Linked DNA regions of Homo sapiens. The protein of the gene in region 1 interacts with the protein of each later gene in a biochemical or structural test. Each region holds a gene or a part of one and is shown on either strand. Other genes may lie near its edges.

Evidence for each region.
Region 2: the proteins of SHQ1 (region 1) and DKC1 are reported together in a solved structure, tested with the Homo sapiens proteins (2 studies listed by BioGRID, with this or other methods).

The regions. Positions count from the first base shown.
Region 1 is NC_000003.12:72,788,854-72,796,680, forward strand, and holds part of SHQ1 (protein SHQ1 homolog), read right to left. Parts: intron 4,184-7,827; coding exon 4,063-4,183; intron 1-4,062. UniProt on the Homo sapiens protein: Required for the quantitative accumulation of H/ACA ribonucleoproteins (RNPs), including telomerase, probably through the stabilization of DKC1, from the time of its synthesis until its association with NOP10, NHP2, and NAF1 at the nascent H/ACA RNA.
Region 2 is NC_000023.11:154,765,864-154,773,690, forward strand, and holds part of DKC1 (H/ACA ribonucleoprotein complex subunit DKC1), read left to right. Parts: intron 1-43; coding exon 44-135; intron 136-352; coding exon 353-537; exon of another isoform or gene 538-1,133; coding exon 1,134-1,198; intron 1,199-1,392; coding exon 1,393-1,519; intron 1,520-2,438; coding exon 2,439-2,569; exon of another isoform or gene 2,570-2,939; intron 2,940-3,303; coding exon 3,304-3,447; intron 3,448-4,895; coding exon 4,896-5,016; intron 5,017-7,267; coding exon 7,268-7,386; intron 7,387-7,827.

The DNA.
Region 1 (7,827 bases):
TTTGTTAAACAGATGCTTGAAGGCAGCATACTCGTTAAGAGTCATCACCACTCCCTAATCTCAAGTACCCAGGGACACAAACACTGCAGAAGGTGGCAGGGCCCTCTGCCTAGGAAAACCAGAGACCTTTGTTCACATGTTTATCTGCTGACCTTCCCTCCACTATTGTCCTATGACCCTGCCAAATCCCCCTCTCCGAGAAACACTCAAGAATGATCAATAAACACTAAAAAAAAAAAAAAAAAGAAAAATAAACTTGTTACATATTTAAAAAATGCATTGGGAAACAAATACAGGAAATATCAAAATACTAATATTGGTTGAATTAGATTAAGTGACAAAGTGACTTGCTAAGGTCATACGGTCAATGAGAAGTAGAGCTGGAATGTATTACAGTTCATTATTTTCTATCCCACCTTATATAAAAAGGTGCCAACTATTTGAATGCAAGGACTTTTTTGCTTATCTGTAGTGATGGATATCATAAAAATTATGCATGGATCTTTTTTTTGGTCCATGCTATCATTAGTGTTAGTGTATTTTATGCGTGGCCCAAGACAATTCTTCCAGTATGGCCCATGGAAGCCAAAGGGTTGGATACCATGGAACTGTTAAATTTCAGAGGGTCAGAACTATCACTGCTACTGATGGCAGCCCACCAGCAAAGAATGGGGCAACTTGTATATGTAGCTGAAATACCAATAAAAATAAGTTAGAATTGATTTATATTTTTAAAGTGCTACATTTAAAACAAAAATGAAAAACGTTCCTTTAATCCGGTCTAATAGGTATCATTCAATTTGAGTAAAACTGATTGTGCTCACAAACTGTGATGGGTCCAGACAGGTGCTTATTCACATAGACCTTAGCATTTTAGAGGGGAAAGAGATACACATCTAGATTCCTACAATATAAGGCAGGCATGAGAGGTGCCCAATGATCTCTCAACCAAGTGCTATGGGAACATCCATGAGAAAGACAGATGTTTCATTCATTCCTTTTCCTATAGGAAAATCTCTCTGAAGAAAGGGCTTTTATCTTTTTTCTTCCACATGGTATGGGTGGAGACAACTGGTTGCATAAGTGGCATATCTTGAAAAATATGAAATCTGGAACCAGAAGACCTGACCTATCTCTTATAAGACATATAACCTCAAACAAATCACTTTCTAAGGCTGCCAACCACAGAACATTTGCTGTAGTGAGCACCACACTCAAAACTTCCAGTGAAGCTTATAGTGAAGGGTGGTAGGGAGCGTTCTTTTCAGAAAAACAATTGGTAAAATCTGTAACTCAGAATGAGAGGCCAGGAGCTTCAGTTTCTCAGCTTTGCAAATATGCATTACAAGACACAGATATCATAGGGAAAAATAACATAGGGAAACCTAGTACGAAAGCAGAAGTAACAATAGATGTTGTTATAACTTCATCGATTCAATGTAAGAATGACTTTGCTACCTACGTTTCAATAGGTTTTTGCCAAAGCATATATCTGACTGTAAAAATGGAATGCTGTTTTTGTGCTAGTCAGAATTTAGCAATTACCTGGTATTTCAAACAAAACCTTACATAGTTTTTATTATTATAATCAAAAACATCAAACTAAACTAAGAAAAATACATGGCTCTTTTCAAACATAAAAATAAGGTGCTAGATTTCACTGATAAACTATATGTAGAAGAAATAAACCAGAAGGTAAAAGTGAGGAAAAAATTCCTTACGAAAATCATGGATCTACACTGCAGTAGAATTATTTAGACCTAAGAAGTTCACAGTAAAGAAAATACTAGAAAGCTCAATCATGTTGTGCTTGTAAAATTAAGAATAAAACTAGAAATTTTTATAAAAATTAGATAAACAAATGTTTTATTTCAAAAGAGAGAAAAAAATAGCTGGGCTACAGTTAAAATTTAACATACAAACTGAAAGCAACACGCCTGTTTAGGGAAAAGAAAGTTATGTTCAAATTGGTAAAGTTGAAAAAACAACTTTTGCAAAGTAATTTGAAGAGTTCCTGCTGGTTTCTCTCTCCTACCTCACTCCCCAATACATTATCCCATTTTTTAAAAGTACTATTAGCACAACAATTACAAAGAACCTAAGAATTTCACTTCATTTCCCACAACATAAAACCAAGAGAAAAAGTTTTTTCAGGGAAGGTCTGATAATCCCTACATCTACTTGGCAGCCTATATCTTTCTTCTTTAATGAAAAATAAACTTCTCTCTAGCTAATAAAGAATATCACAAAGAGAGAAACAGGCACTCACAGAAATGAGATCCTGGTACATACCTCAATATTCATTACATGTTTACAAAATCATCATTCCTAAAAAAAAGAAAAACCAAAACCCACACAAATAGACTATCCCCATTTAATTTTATTATGAAAATGAAAGTAACAACAGGAAATGGCAGCAGGGTATTTGATAAGCTCAATTAGCAGGAGGATCAAATGAAGTGATGACATGCCATTATGACCTCAGGGGTTAAACATTCAATTTTCCATCTGGCGAAATCTAGATTTCCAACACAAATGCTGACACCACCTGCTGTATGTTATTAGGCATTATCTTGAGCAATCCCTAAGCATTTTCTGTACAACAGGTATAGCCTCAAGTTTTTTCATATTTCATTCTGCAATATAATTGCTCCCCCATGAAGAGAAATAAAAAATAAATCCCATATAATGGCTCATTCAAAACAGACATTAAAATCCACACTAAAGCATTTATTTATCAATCATGGCGGTAGCAAAAATATCAAGACTATTTTTCTTCTAAGTCACAATTGACATTGTAGCTATCATTTTCTATAGCACCTAGGAGTCATTCCAATTAAGAGTTCCCTTTATAGGTTTTTTGTTTTGTTTTTTTTTTAATACAGACAGGGTCTCACTATGTTGCCCAGGCTGGTCTTGAACTCCTGAACTCAAGCGATCCTCCTGCCTCAGCCTCCCAAAGTGCTGGGATTACAGGCATGAACCAACATGCCTGGCCCATTTATAGATTCTTAATTAATAGCCTCTTGCTACTGAAATGGAATTTTGTCATGTCTAATAAGAATCAGATCTACAGAACTTCACGAAATAAAAATTCACTGCATTTTAAAATGTAATCGTTAATCTACTATGTTTCTTTGATTGACGCAATGGTAAACACTTTTAAAAATTTTTATATACCAAGTGCTGGAGCTCATTTGTGAGTGTTCAGACCCTTCCATACATGCATTATCAAGAATCATGCTATTAGGCTCTGCAGGTGGTAAGCCAGTGGCTAGCCAATAAATGCAGAGCTCTCATCTGGATTCAACTGATGCAGTTTGCATACTAAAATGTTTGCACACACAAACATGAATGCACATACATCTACACACACTCACACTCTACTGTAAGTGAAATACAGATACAAGTTCAGATACCCAGTCTTGAGATTTCATACTGGACAGTCAATAGCAAGGCAATCAATATCACAACTGTTTTAATACCTGTTTTCCAGGACATACCAATACCAATTTTTTCTAATAAAATTAACTTTTTACCATCTGTGTACCTCCTTCCCTAAGCAAATTCACCAAGCTCCCCATGTTAATCCAGTTGCTTTTTAGTGTTTGGTAGGTCTATGGGTTTCCTTCTCATTAAAACTTATTCCTGGCCAGGCACAGTGGCTCACACCTGTAATCCCAGCACTCTGGGAGGCCGAGGTGGGTGGATCACCTGAGGTCAGGAGTTCAAGACCAGCCTGGTCAATGTGGTGAAACCCCGTCTCTACTAAAAATAAAAAATTAGCTAGGCGTGGTGGCACACGCCTGTAATCCCAGCTACTCGGGAGGCAGAGGCACAAGAATCACTTGAACTTGGGAGACGGAGGTTGCAGTAGCTGAGATCACACCAATGCACTCCAGCCTGGGTGACAAGGGCAAACCTCCATCTCAAAAAAAAAAAAAAAAAAAAAAAAAAACACAACTTACTCCTCAGGTTATTTCGTTTTCTTCCTCCTGGGTAAATAGGTATTTCAGCAATGTGAACATCTAAAAATTCGTAAGTAACTCTATGAAAACTTACTTGACTTTCTGAATCCACACACAGTAGTCTGAGATGTAGAGATCATTCAGTATGTACGCTGGGTCATTTTCCTGAAAAATTTTGTGAATATCCAGGAGACACTTTAAAACTGCACTTTTACCTAAAGAAAATTGAAAAAACATAAAATTATCCTTAAGAAAAAGAAATTCAGACCCTGAGAGGTAATATATCTAAAGCAGCTCAGAATCCTGATCATTTCTTAAGAACATTTTTAAATGCAAAAAAATTTATGAGTCCTATTAGGTCCAAACCCCTTTACTGATTTCCTTAAGAATTACATACAATCTTTGGCCAGGCACAGTGGCTCACACCTGTAATTCCAGCACTTTGGGAGGCCGAGGCGGGCAGATCACGAGGTCAGGAGATCGAGACCATCCTGGCTAACACGGTGAAACCCTGTCTCTACTAAAAATACAAAAAATTAGCCAGGCGTGGTGACAGGCACCTATAGTCCCAGCTACTCGGGAGGCTGAGGCAGGAGAACGGCGTGAACTGGGGAGGTGGAGCTTGCCGTGAGCCAAGATCGCGCCACTGCACTCCAGCCTGGGCGACAGAGAAAGACTCCATCTCGAAAAAAAAAAAAAAAAAAGAATTACATATAATCTTTATATTCTGTTGTTACAGCTGACTAGTTGTGGTTATCATTAAAATGCTATGAAATACAACTAGGTCAATTAAATGAAAGGCAGGAAAGTTTTCTAAACCAAATGAATATCTAAATGCATCATAATTTTTATTAGATAATGTTCTTCCAATTCAAGCTTTCAACATAACATGGAAAACTGTATTCTAAATTTCAAACTTCTTTATTTCTTATGTCAACATTTTCTGTCAAGGAGTTATCTACTAATAACAAATTATTTTACCTTAAAGAATTGAAGAAAACTGAACACTAAAACATCATAGCACTACTTCAGAAATAAGCTGACAAAACTCACATGAACAAAAGCCATCAAGTATTAAAGCCTTGTTCAACCTAACTACTTCCTCCTGGTTTTTAAATGAACCTAGTTTTAACCCAACCAAAGTCTACAAAAGGAGCCTTTTACAACTCAGCAATTCCCTAGGTGTTCCAAACTTCATGATATTTCCTGAAATTTATTAATTATAAGGTGAACTATTAATTCTACATCTAGAGTAGTACCATTTTCTTTGATCTGTGAAATTCAGTATTTTCAGTTTAACAGTTTCATTCTTATCTTTACAGTTCTGAAACGCGGAAATACTGTATACTGAGTTCATGAAGATACTGGATGCACTTTCATTGACATTTCCCATTTAACTTTTAGATCATAAAAGAATCATGAGCTAGATGATGACATCTCAAGATCCTAAAATTGCTGACACTAAATTTTTTAACATAATTAACACTAGAAAGTAAGTTTCAAAAGAGCAGGGGCTTCTGTTTTATTTAGTGGTTAATCCCCAATACCTAGAACAGAACACCGCAACAGCAGGTTTTCCATTTAAGTGTTCTAAGAATGAATGAATACATGATAGACACAGTAATCACCCAGCTTAAACCTTGAAAATTTCTTTCATTCTACGGTCTCACCCGTCAAATCCTGATGATTTTTCCTTGGAGATGCTCCTTGTATCTGCCCTTTCTATGCCATTGCCTGAGCTCCTATGTTCACTCATATTCTCATCTCATGCCTCGATTTTAAGAATCCTCTTTCCCATCTTTCAGATTCCAGACTCTACCCCTTCAAACACACATTTTTTAATGCACTGCTTTCATGGAGTCTCTTCCCTGCATATGTTCTCAATGCTCTTTCTACAGACTTGTTTCCATGCCTTTTTCCCTTCTCCATGTGACCTAGCCCACTATCAAGGTCTAGCTCCAGTCTTCATTCCTTCGGGAAGTTCTGGGCTGACTTTCCTAGTCTTCACGGTCCTTTACTATAATGCTGCCAAGAAGTGGAAAGGAAACTCAAAATGGGGAAAGTCCTCCCCATAACCTCTCCTGTTCAATTCCCAGAAGGAAAACTGGAGGCTTCAGGATGGGTAAGATACAGGGCCACTGAGTTGAGGGACCAAGATCTAAATTCCAATCTTAATGGCTCCAGAGGCTACCCACTGTGCCATGCTACCTGTATGTTCTTGCCTCATCCAGTCTATATCACAACGTTTTTATTACTCAAGGACTTATTACTGACTTTAACCCCTAAGTAGGTAGTAAGTCTGAAAACAGAGTCCATACCTTTTTAAAAAATATTAACTTTGTGGCTTCCTCATATGCAGATACAATAAAGAATGAATGAAGAATGTCAATGAAAGCTCCACTGCTAGACTGACTGTGAAGAGAAACTAACACTTAGAAGGCCTAAAGCTACAAGATGTCAAGTTCATTTGGTTAAGGCAAGGTCAGTGCTATGGCTTATCAAAGTGGCACAGGTTAACTATGTCAAATGATTAGTGTGGATCACCCCAGCACAAGCCTATTTTAATTACAAACTAGGTAATGTTGAGAGCAGGGTTTGATGAAAGGAGGAGGAAATATAATCAAAATTTGCAGGCATGATGAAACCATGTTTGCCACACTAGCCATGTTACCCAAAGAATCAAGGAACAACTGACCTGTAAGAATGTTTTGAAGTTTTAATTGCCACAGAGAAGACAAATGTCACAGTAAGCATAGGCCAACTAATTTCTTTCTTGCTTTCCTTCTCTCTCTCTTTTTAGAGGAAGGAGGGTGCAGAGGGAAGGAGTTAGTTTTAGAACTACTAAAAGTTTTAAATGTCAATCGTAAGTCTTTACTGGAAAAACGAACTATTCTCTTGTAACTTGAATAAGCTTCTCTGCTGTGTGACACCTCCAGAATACTCTCTCTCAAGATCCCACACTTTACTAATATAAACAGGTTAACAGAAAATGCAGGATTGGGGCTAGGCGTGGTGGCTCACGCCTGTAATCCCAGCACTTTGGGAGGCCAAGGCAGGCGGATTACGAGGTCAGAAGTTCGAGACCAGCTTGGCCAGCATGGTGAAACCCCATCTCTACTAAAAATACAAAAATGAGCCAGGCGTGGTAGTGCACGCCTGTAGTCCCAGCTACTCGGGAGGCTGAGGCAGGAGAATCACTGGACCCGGGGAGGCAGAGGTTGCAGTGAGCCAAGATTGCGCCACTCACTCCAGTCTAGGTGACAGAGTGAGACTCCATCTCAAAAAAAAAAAAAAAAAAAAAAAGAAAGAGAAAAAGAAAATGCAGGATTTGGAGAAAACCATTTGGCTAGAGCAAAGAGTTCATGTAAGGAAAAAAAGGAGAATAAGCAGATGAGTTTGGTAGAAATCAGACACTAACAAGGAGGAAGAGAAGAATGCACTTGGACAGACTGAGTGAGAACGTCTCTAAACTTAGGTGTGGGCAGTAGGAATAAAGGACCCTACTCCCGAGATCATAATGTAAAAAGGTATGGAGTTAAGGTCACATATTTAATGAGGATCCACAGCAGCCATTACCTGATAAAATTATACACAGCTTCACTTACCAGACATGCCTAAAGTGAGGCTGCCCTCTTGCTAAAGGCCACAGGCAAATTTAAATCTTCCAGCTATCACAAAAAAAATAAGAATAACAATGAAAAGAAATGTCAAATAACAGGCAGGGCATGGTGGCTCATGCCTCTAATCCCAGCACTTTGGAAAGCCGAGGTGGGCAGATCACCTGAGGTCAGGAGTCCGAGACCAGCCTGGTCAACATGGTGAAACCCCATCTCTACAACAATAAAAAAATTAGTCGGGC
Region 2 (7,827 bases), on another chromosome or scaffold:
CACGACATGGTATTTTGTTTTGTGTTGTGTCGTTGCTTTGTAGAATTTTGATAAGCTGAATGTAAGGACAACACACTATACACCTCTTGCATGTGGTTCAAATCCTCTGAAGAGAGAGATTGGGGACTATATCAGGTAAGTGTTGGGAGGAGGCACTGTGCAAACTTACTTTCTTTTGAAAATGCTTTCACATCAGCTATTCAGGAAGGCAGTGGCATGCCAGAATAGCTTTGTCTTGAATATATAACCTGTACCCGCAGTGAATTATTTTTCTTTTTAACTTTTCAGATTTGTTGTTTCACTGGAGCATTAAGAGTGGGTGATACATTAATTTTTTTTTTTTCCATTCCAGGACAGGTTTCATTAATCTTGACAAGCCCTCTAACCCCTCTTCCCATGAGGTGGTAGCCTGGATTCGACGGATACTTCGGGTGGAGAAGACAGGGCACAGTGGTACGCTGGATCCCAAGGTGACTGGTTGTTTAATCGTGTGCATAGAACGAGCCACTCGCTTGGTGAAGTCACAACAGAGTGCAGGTATGTGGGAGAGGGAGGGAAGGACTGGCTAGAGTGAAAAGCTTTCTGTATTTCCCTTCTATGTTTTGTCTGCTGGAAACTATTTCTTCATTAAGAAAAAAAAAAATCCTAAAGCAAGGATATTGTTTTGGTTTCTGTGTACGTTCTGTCCCCTGCCAGATCTTGGTGGTCCGCGCTTTTTGGAATTCCACATACTAAGCATGTATTCATCAAGCTGACTGGATCCATTTGTCCGGGTTCAGCTCTCAGCTTGTCACTCCAGGCTTCTCACTCTGTGCTACCGCTTCTGCCTAAAGTATCCTTCGTTCATTTTTATCTGAGAAAAGCCTGCTTATCTTGCAAGGCTTTTTCCACGCAGCTTCTACACTGAGTACTCCCAACTGTCCCTGTTAGTACATTGAATTCCCAGTGAGAAAGTGTCTTCATTCTTTCCCACATCATCACCATGAAATCTCTCTTAATGCAAATTTTATAGAAACACAAGGTCAAACTGCCGCTTTTCCTGCTGTGCAAAATGGGAGTGACTGAGCATATAAGAAATATGGAAAACAGAAAACTCAGTGGCCACACCTGACTACTCTTTTGTCATTTTTCAGGCAAAGAGTATGTGGGGATTGTCCGGCTGCACAATGCTATTGAAGGGGGGACCCAGCTTTCTAGGGTAAGTCTGCAATTGTAGGGAGGACACCCTTTGTTGACTTGGATCTCTGAGCCCCTAAACATCTGGAGATGGGTTAGCTGTCCTGACTGACTCCTTTTGTCCCCTTTTCAGTCGGCTGCTGCAGCCAGCCTGGACCAGTGACTGCACATGTACATTCTGATGAGGTGTTTGTTTTCATTTGTGTTTGTTCTTAGGCCCTAGAAACTCTGACAGGTGCCTTATTCCAGCGACCCCCACTTATTGCTGCAGTAAAGAGGCAGCTCCGAGTGAGGACCATCTACGAGAGCAAAATGATTGAATACGATCCTGAAAGAAGATTAGGTGAGTCATTAGGCCTGTGAGTGGGTATGAACACATTCTTCAGGATTCTGTTCTCTTATTAAAAGTAGATGCCCTTGAAGTTGAAGACTTTCTAAAACCTGCCCTACAGCTGGGATATTGTCTGTGGGCGATAGTTTTTGTTATCTTTTGTTGAAAAAGTGAACAGTGCCTAGTAAAGTGAGATGGCTTTTACACCTTTTATGATGACTGCTTCTGCTGGAGTTGAAATGTTTTCATTCTGCATTTGTGTAGTTCGGTGCTTTGTTCAAAGGTAAGTGTTTTCACCAAAGTATGTTTTGCATGTGTTTTTTATTTGTTGCAATTTTGACTGCTTAGAAGTTTCTGTTGTCAGAAGTAAATTTAAGACAATGCCAATTTTCCTCCCATCCATGAAACATACCATGCTGAATATACCTGCAACTTAAGTGTTAAAAATTCTGCTAATATCAGAATTACAGATCTTTTTTTTTTTTTTTTTTTTTTTTTGAGACGGAGTCTCGCTCTGTCGCCCAGGCTGGAGTGCGGTGGCATGATCTCGGCTCACTGCAAACTCTGTCTCCCGGGTTCACACCATTTTCCTGCCTCAGCCTCCCAAGTAGCTGGGACTATAGGCGCCCGCCATCATGCCCGGCTAATTTTTTGTACATTTAGTAGAGACGGGGTTTCACCATGTTAGCCAGGATGGTCTTGATCTCCTGACGTCGTGATCCACCCGCCTCTGCCTCCCAAAGTGCTGGAATTACAGGCGTGAGCCACCGTGCCTGGCCAGAATTACAGATCTTTACAGCAAATGCTTATATTTTAAGAAGTGTGTCTGTCACCTCTAGTCTTGGTGGCTCAGATGAAGGATAACTGCATTTCTCAACCAGTGATGTATTTACAGTAGGTGCTGCTTTTCTTTTGTGTGTGTGTATCTTAGGAATCTTTTGGGTGAGTTGTGAGGCTGGCACCTACATTCGGACATTATGTGTGCACCTTGGTTTGTTATTGGGAGTTGGTGGTCAGATGCAGGAGCTTCGGAGGGTTCGTTCTGGAGTCATGAGTGAAAAGGTATGTGTTACGGGGCTAGAAGTTTTAGAGCTGGTTCTTACCATCTGCCAGCCTTTGATGGCACTCCACTTGCTTCATGTCGTGGGAAAGATGCTTTCCAAAGTGTTGAGTTCAGTCCAGGGCAGCTTCCCTGTTCTGTTAATTAAACTTTGGGACATTAAAATGGGCTAAGGGAGATGATTGGGTAGAAAGTATTATTCTATTCATTTGCCTCCCAGCCTACAAAAATGCCTGCTTGGGGTCTAATACTTCAACGGTTAAAGATGCCTGGAAGAGGGCGCGGTGGCTCACGCCTGTAATCCCAGCACTTTGGGAGGCCGAGGCGGGTGGATCATGAGGTCAGGAGATCGAGACCATCCTGGCTAACAAGGTGAAACCCCGTCTCTACTAAAAATACAAAAAAAATTAGCCGGGCGCGGTGGCGGGCGCCTGTAGTCCCAGCTACTCGGGAGGCTGAGGCAGGAGAATGGCGTGAACCCGGGAAGCGGAGCTTGCAGTGAGCCGAGATTGCGCCACTGCAGTCCGCAGTCCCACCTGGGCGACAGAGCGAGACTCCGTCTCAAAAAAAAAAAAAAAAAAAAAAAAAAGATGCCTGGAAGAGCCAGGACTGAAGAGGCTGAAGACATAATGAGCTTGGACTAGTAAACAAGTGACATTCAGTTTTAGGAAGTTTGGGGTCTGATGGGCTGAGATACAAATAAACTGAATTATTTTCATACATGGCTGCTTTTCAGGACCACATGGTGACAATGCATGATGTGCTTGATGCTCAGTGGCTGTATGATAACCACAAGGATGAGAGTTACCTGCGGCGAGTTGTTTACCCTTTGGAAAAGCTGTTGACATCTCATAAACGGCTGGTTATGAAAGACAGTGCAGTAAGTTCCGGGTTAGGAGTTTATATTTGGAAAGAACGTACTCCAAAGATGAGGCTTGCTCTTTTTATTGTTTTCCTTGGGTTTTATTTTATTTTTTTCAAGTCCAAACCAAGTATATTAATTTAAAGTAAAAGTTTAATGGTAGGCATACTTAAAAATAAGGCACATTAGGCCAGGCACAGTGGCTGATGCCTATAATCCTAGCACTTTGGCAGGCTGAGGCAAGAGGATCACTTGAGTCCAGGAAGGAGTTTGAGACCAGCTTGAGCCCAGGAGATCAAGGCTGTGAGCTGTGTTTTTATGATGATCAGAGAGTTGGCCTTTTATAAATTAAAACATTGTCTTTTTCTCTAACTTGAGGGATAAAAATTTCTGGATATTTAAAATGTTTGTAGTTGGTAATTATTTATATTCAAATCTTGTATAGATGTTCACATTTTTTGTATGTGTATAGGCTGTAATAAATACTGAAAGATGGCACCATAATAGTTGAAAAAACTCAGTCACAAAACAGTGGACAACATAAATGTGATGTCCTCTCCTTATCAAACCATTGGCTTCTGGGTGAATGTAAAGGGAGGGGAGAATGTGATCAAAAGAGGTCTAGGTGAGTGGAGATGGTATGAGGCAGATGGGTGCATTGGGTACCATTGAACCTCTGGAGAGGTAGCCTTAACTTGTACCCACTGACCTATAAATTCTGCACCAAGACTTTTGTGTGATTGGTTCAACAGGGCTCAGTAATCTTGTTTTCAAGTTCTTTAAGAGCCTGTTATTGCCTGGATCTCCAGTAAATCTGTTCTTTCTCCTCATAAGGAGGAGAGAGGAGTAATTAAGGAATGCCAAGGCTATTTTTATGTTTCAAATGAAAATATGGACCACGTGCGGTGGCTCACACCCATAATCCCAGCACTTTGGGAGGCCGGGCCAGGCAAATTGCTTGAGCTCAGGAGTTTGAGACCAGCCTGGGCAATATGGTGAAACCCTGTCTCTATTAAAAATACAAAAATTAGCTGGGCGTGGTGGCACGTGCCTGTAATCCCAGCTCCTTGGGAGGCTGAGAATCACTTGAACTTGGGAGATGGAGGTTGCAGTGAGCCGAGAATGTGCCACTGCACTCCACCCTGGACAACAGAGGGAGGTTCTGCCTGAAAATTAAAAAAAAAAAAAAAAAAAAAAGAAAATACTTGTGAGTCTCTAGAACCTGAAAACCTGAAAGTCTTCTTTACTACTTTTGAGTCGTGTGTAATGTGCGGAGAGTGGTACCTATAGCACAGTGAGGTGGCTCTTCTGAGTACCACTCATGCCCCTTGCAGCTAGTGGGCTATAAGTGTCATCCCTGTTTCCTGGTGTCAGGCCCCACTCCCTTGTTGTCCTCCTTTACTCTGGTGTGGGAGTGGGGTGGAGGGCAGCAGCTGGGCCCCTTACACTTGGTGCCATCTCTGCAGGTAAATGCCATCTGCTATGGGGCCAAGATTATGCTTCCAGGTGTTCTTCGATATGAGGACGGCATTGAGGTCAATCAGGAGATTGTGGTTATCACCACCAAAGGAGAAGCAATCTGCATGGGTAAGAGGGGATGTTTATTTTTTAAATTCTAAATGTTTGTGGTTACATACTAGGTGTATATATTTATGGGGTTCATGAGATGTTTTGATACAGGCATGCAATACATAATAATCACATCATGGAGAATGGGGCATCCATCTTAAGCATTTATCCTTTGTGTTACAAACAATCCTATTTTACTGTTAGTTATTTATCACCTTAGTTATTTTAAAATATACACTTAAGTTATTATTGATTATAGTCACCCCGTTGTGCTATTAAATAGTCTCACTCTTCTTGTTCATTCTTTTGGTTTTTTGGTGGTGGTGTTTTTTTTTTTTTTTTTTTTTTGAGACAGTCTTGCTCTTTTCACCCAGACTGCAGTGCAGAGACGTGACCTCGGCTCACTGCAACTTCTGCTTCCCAGGTTCAAGCGATTCTCGTGCCTCAGCCTTCCGAGTAGCTAGGATTACAGGTGCACACCATGACACCTGGCTAATTTTTTGTATTTTTAGTAGAGACAGGGTTTTGTCATGTTGGTCAGGCTGGTCTCGAACTTCTGACCTCAGGTGATCTGCCCTCCCAAAGTGCTGGGATTACAGGTGTGAGCCACCATGCCGGGCCTGATTTTTTTTTTTTTTGTACCCATTAACCATCCCTACCTCCCTGCCAGCCCCCCACTACCCTCCCAGTCTCTGGTAACCATTCTTTTACTCTTCTCTGTCCATGAGTTCAATTGTTTCGATTCTTAGCTCCCACAAATAAGTGAGAACATGCAATGTTTGTCTTTCTGTGACTGGCCGATTACACTTAATATAACGATCTTCAGTTCCATCCATGTTGTTGGAAATGACAGGATCTCATTCTTTTTTAAGGCTGAATAGTAATCCATCGTGTATATGTACCACATTTTCTTTATCCATTTATCTGTCGATGGGCACTTCGGTTGCTTCCAAATCTTGGCTACTGTGATCTCTTTGATAACACTGATTTCCTTTATTTGGGGTATATACCCAGCAGTGGGATTGCTGGATCCTATGGTAGCTCAATTTAGTTTTTCGAGGAACCTCCAAACTGTTCTTCATAGTGGTTATACTAATTTACATTCCCATCAACAGTGTACAAAGGTTCCCTTTTCTCCACATCCTTGCCAGCACTTGTCATTGCCTGTCTTTTGGATATAAACCATTTTAACTGGAGTGAAATGATATTTCATTGTAGTTTTGATTTGCATTTCTCTCGTGATCAGCATTGAGCACTTTTTCATATGCCTGTTTGCCATTTATTTGTCTTCTTTTGAGAAGTGTCTGTTCAAATCTTTTGCCTGTTTTTTGATCAGATTATTAGATTTTTTTTCCTATAGTGCTGAGTTCCTTATATATTCTGGTTATTAATCCCTTGTCAGATGGGTAGTTTGCGGATATTTTCTCCCATTCTTATGCATATGGATATCTAGTTTTCCCAGCACCATTTATTGAAGAGACTGGTTTTTACCCAGTGTATGTTCTTGGCACCTTTGTCAAAAATGAGTTAAATGTAGGTGTGTGCATTTGTTTCTGGGTTCCTTATTCTGTTCCATTGGTTTATGTGCCTGTTTTTATGCCAGTACCATACTGTTTTGGTTACTGTAGCTCTATACTATAATTTGAAGTCAGGTAATGTGATTCCTCCAGGTTTGTTCTTTTTGCTTAGGATAGCTTTGGCTATTTTGAGTCTTTTGTGGTTCCATGTAAAGTACCAGTGTTTTTTAACTTGTGAAAGCTTAGCTACTGTTGGATTGTCTCTTAAGACTTTAAATGCTCTGCGCACCCTCTTAGTGAATGAACCTTAGAGCTATTCATTTAATGGGTCTAATTTGTACCAGAAGTAAGCATGTCATCAGGATTCCTTAGCTCTGTGAGCAGGCAAGGCAGCCACGGCTTATGGACAGCAGCAGAAAAGGAATCCTTAAAACTTCAAAGGTTCTGTGGCCCCAAAGGGAGTGTGCATGCCGTTCTTATAGACGTCTTGAGCTGCAAGCCTGTTATGTGTATCGTTAGGTGCTTTGGTTAGGTGTTTTTTAACTTCAGAAGTTTAACGTCATTTCAAAGGCCTCCTTCTCATAATGGAGTATTTCCTCCATATGCACATCCTGAGCAAAGGTAACCCCAATTAAAGTAGTAGCTCAGAGTTTTAAAAGTTTTAAAGTGGCATACAACAGTAGAATTGGGGCTCATCAATTATCAATTCTTTCACCCTTCAAATAATTCTTTTCTTTATTCAATGCCTGTAGCTATTGCATTAATGACCACAGCGGTCATCTCTACCTGCGACCATGGTATAGTAGCCAAGATCAAGAGAGTGATCATGGAGAGAGACACTTACCCTCGGAAGTGGGGTTTAGGTCCAAAGGTAAGTGGTACTGGGTTGCGTGCCCTGCCAGGTTCTTTTTTTTTTTTTTTTTTTTTTAAATTTATTTTTTTATTGATAATTCTTGGGTGTTTCTCACAGAGGGGGATTTGGCAGGGTCATGGGACAATAGTGGAGGGAAGGTCAGCAGATAAACAAGTGAACAAAGGTCTCTGGTTTTCCTAGGCAGAGGACCCTGCGGCCTTCCGCAGTGTCTGTGTCCCTGATTACTTGAGATTAGGGAGTGGTGATGACTCTTAAGGAGCATGCTGCCTTCAAGCATCTGTTTAACAAAGCACATCTTGCACCGCCCTTAATCCATTTAACCCTGAGTGGACACAGCACATGTTTCAGAGAGCACAGGGTTGGGGGTAAGGTCACAGATCAACAGGATCCCAAGGCAGAAGAGTTTTTCTTAGTGCAGAACAAAATGAAAAGTCTCCC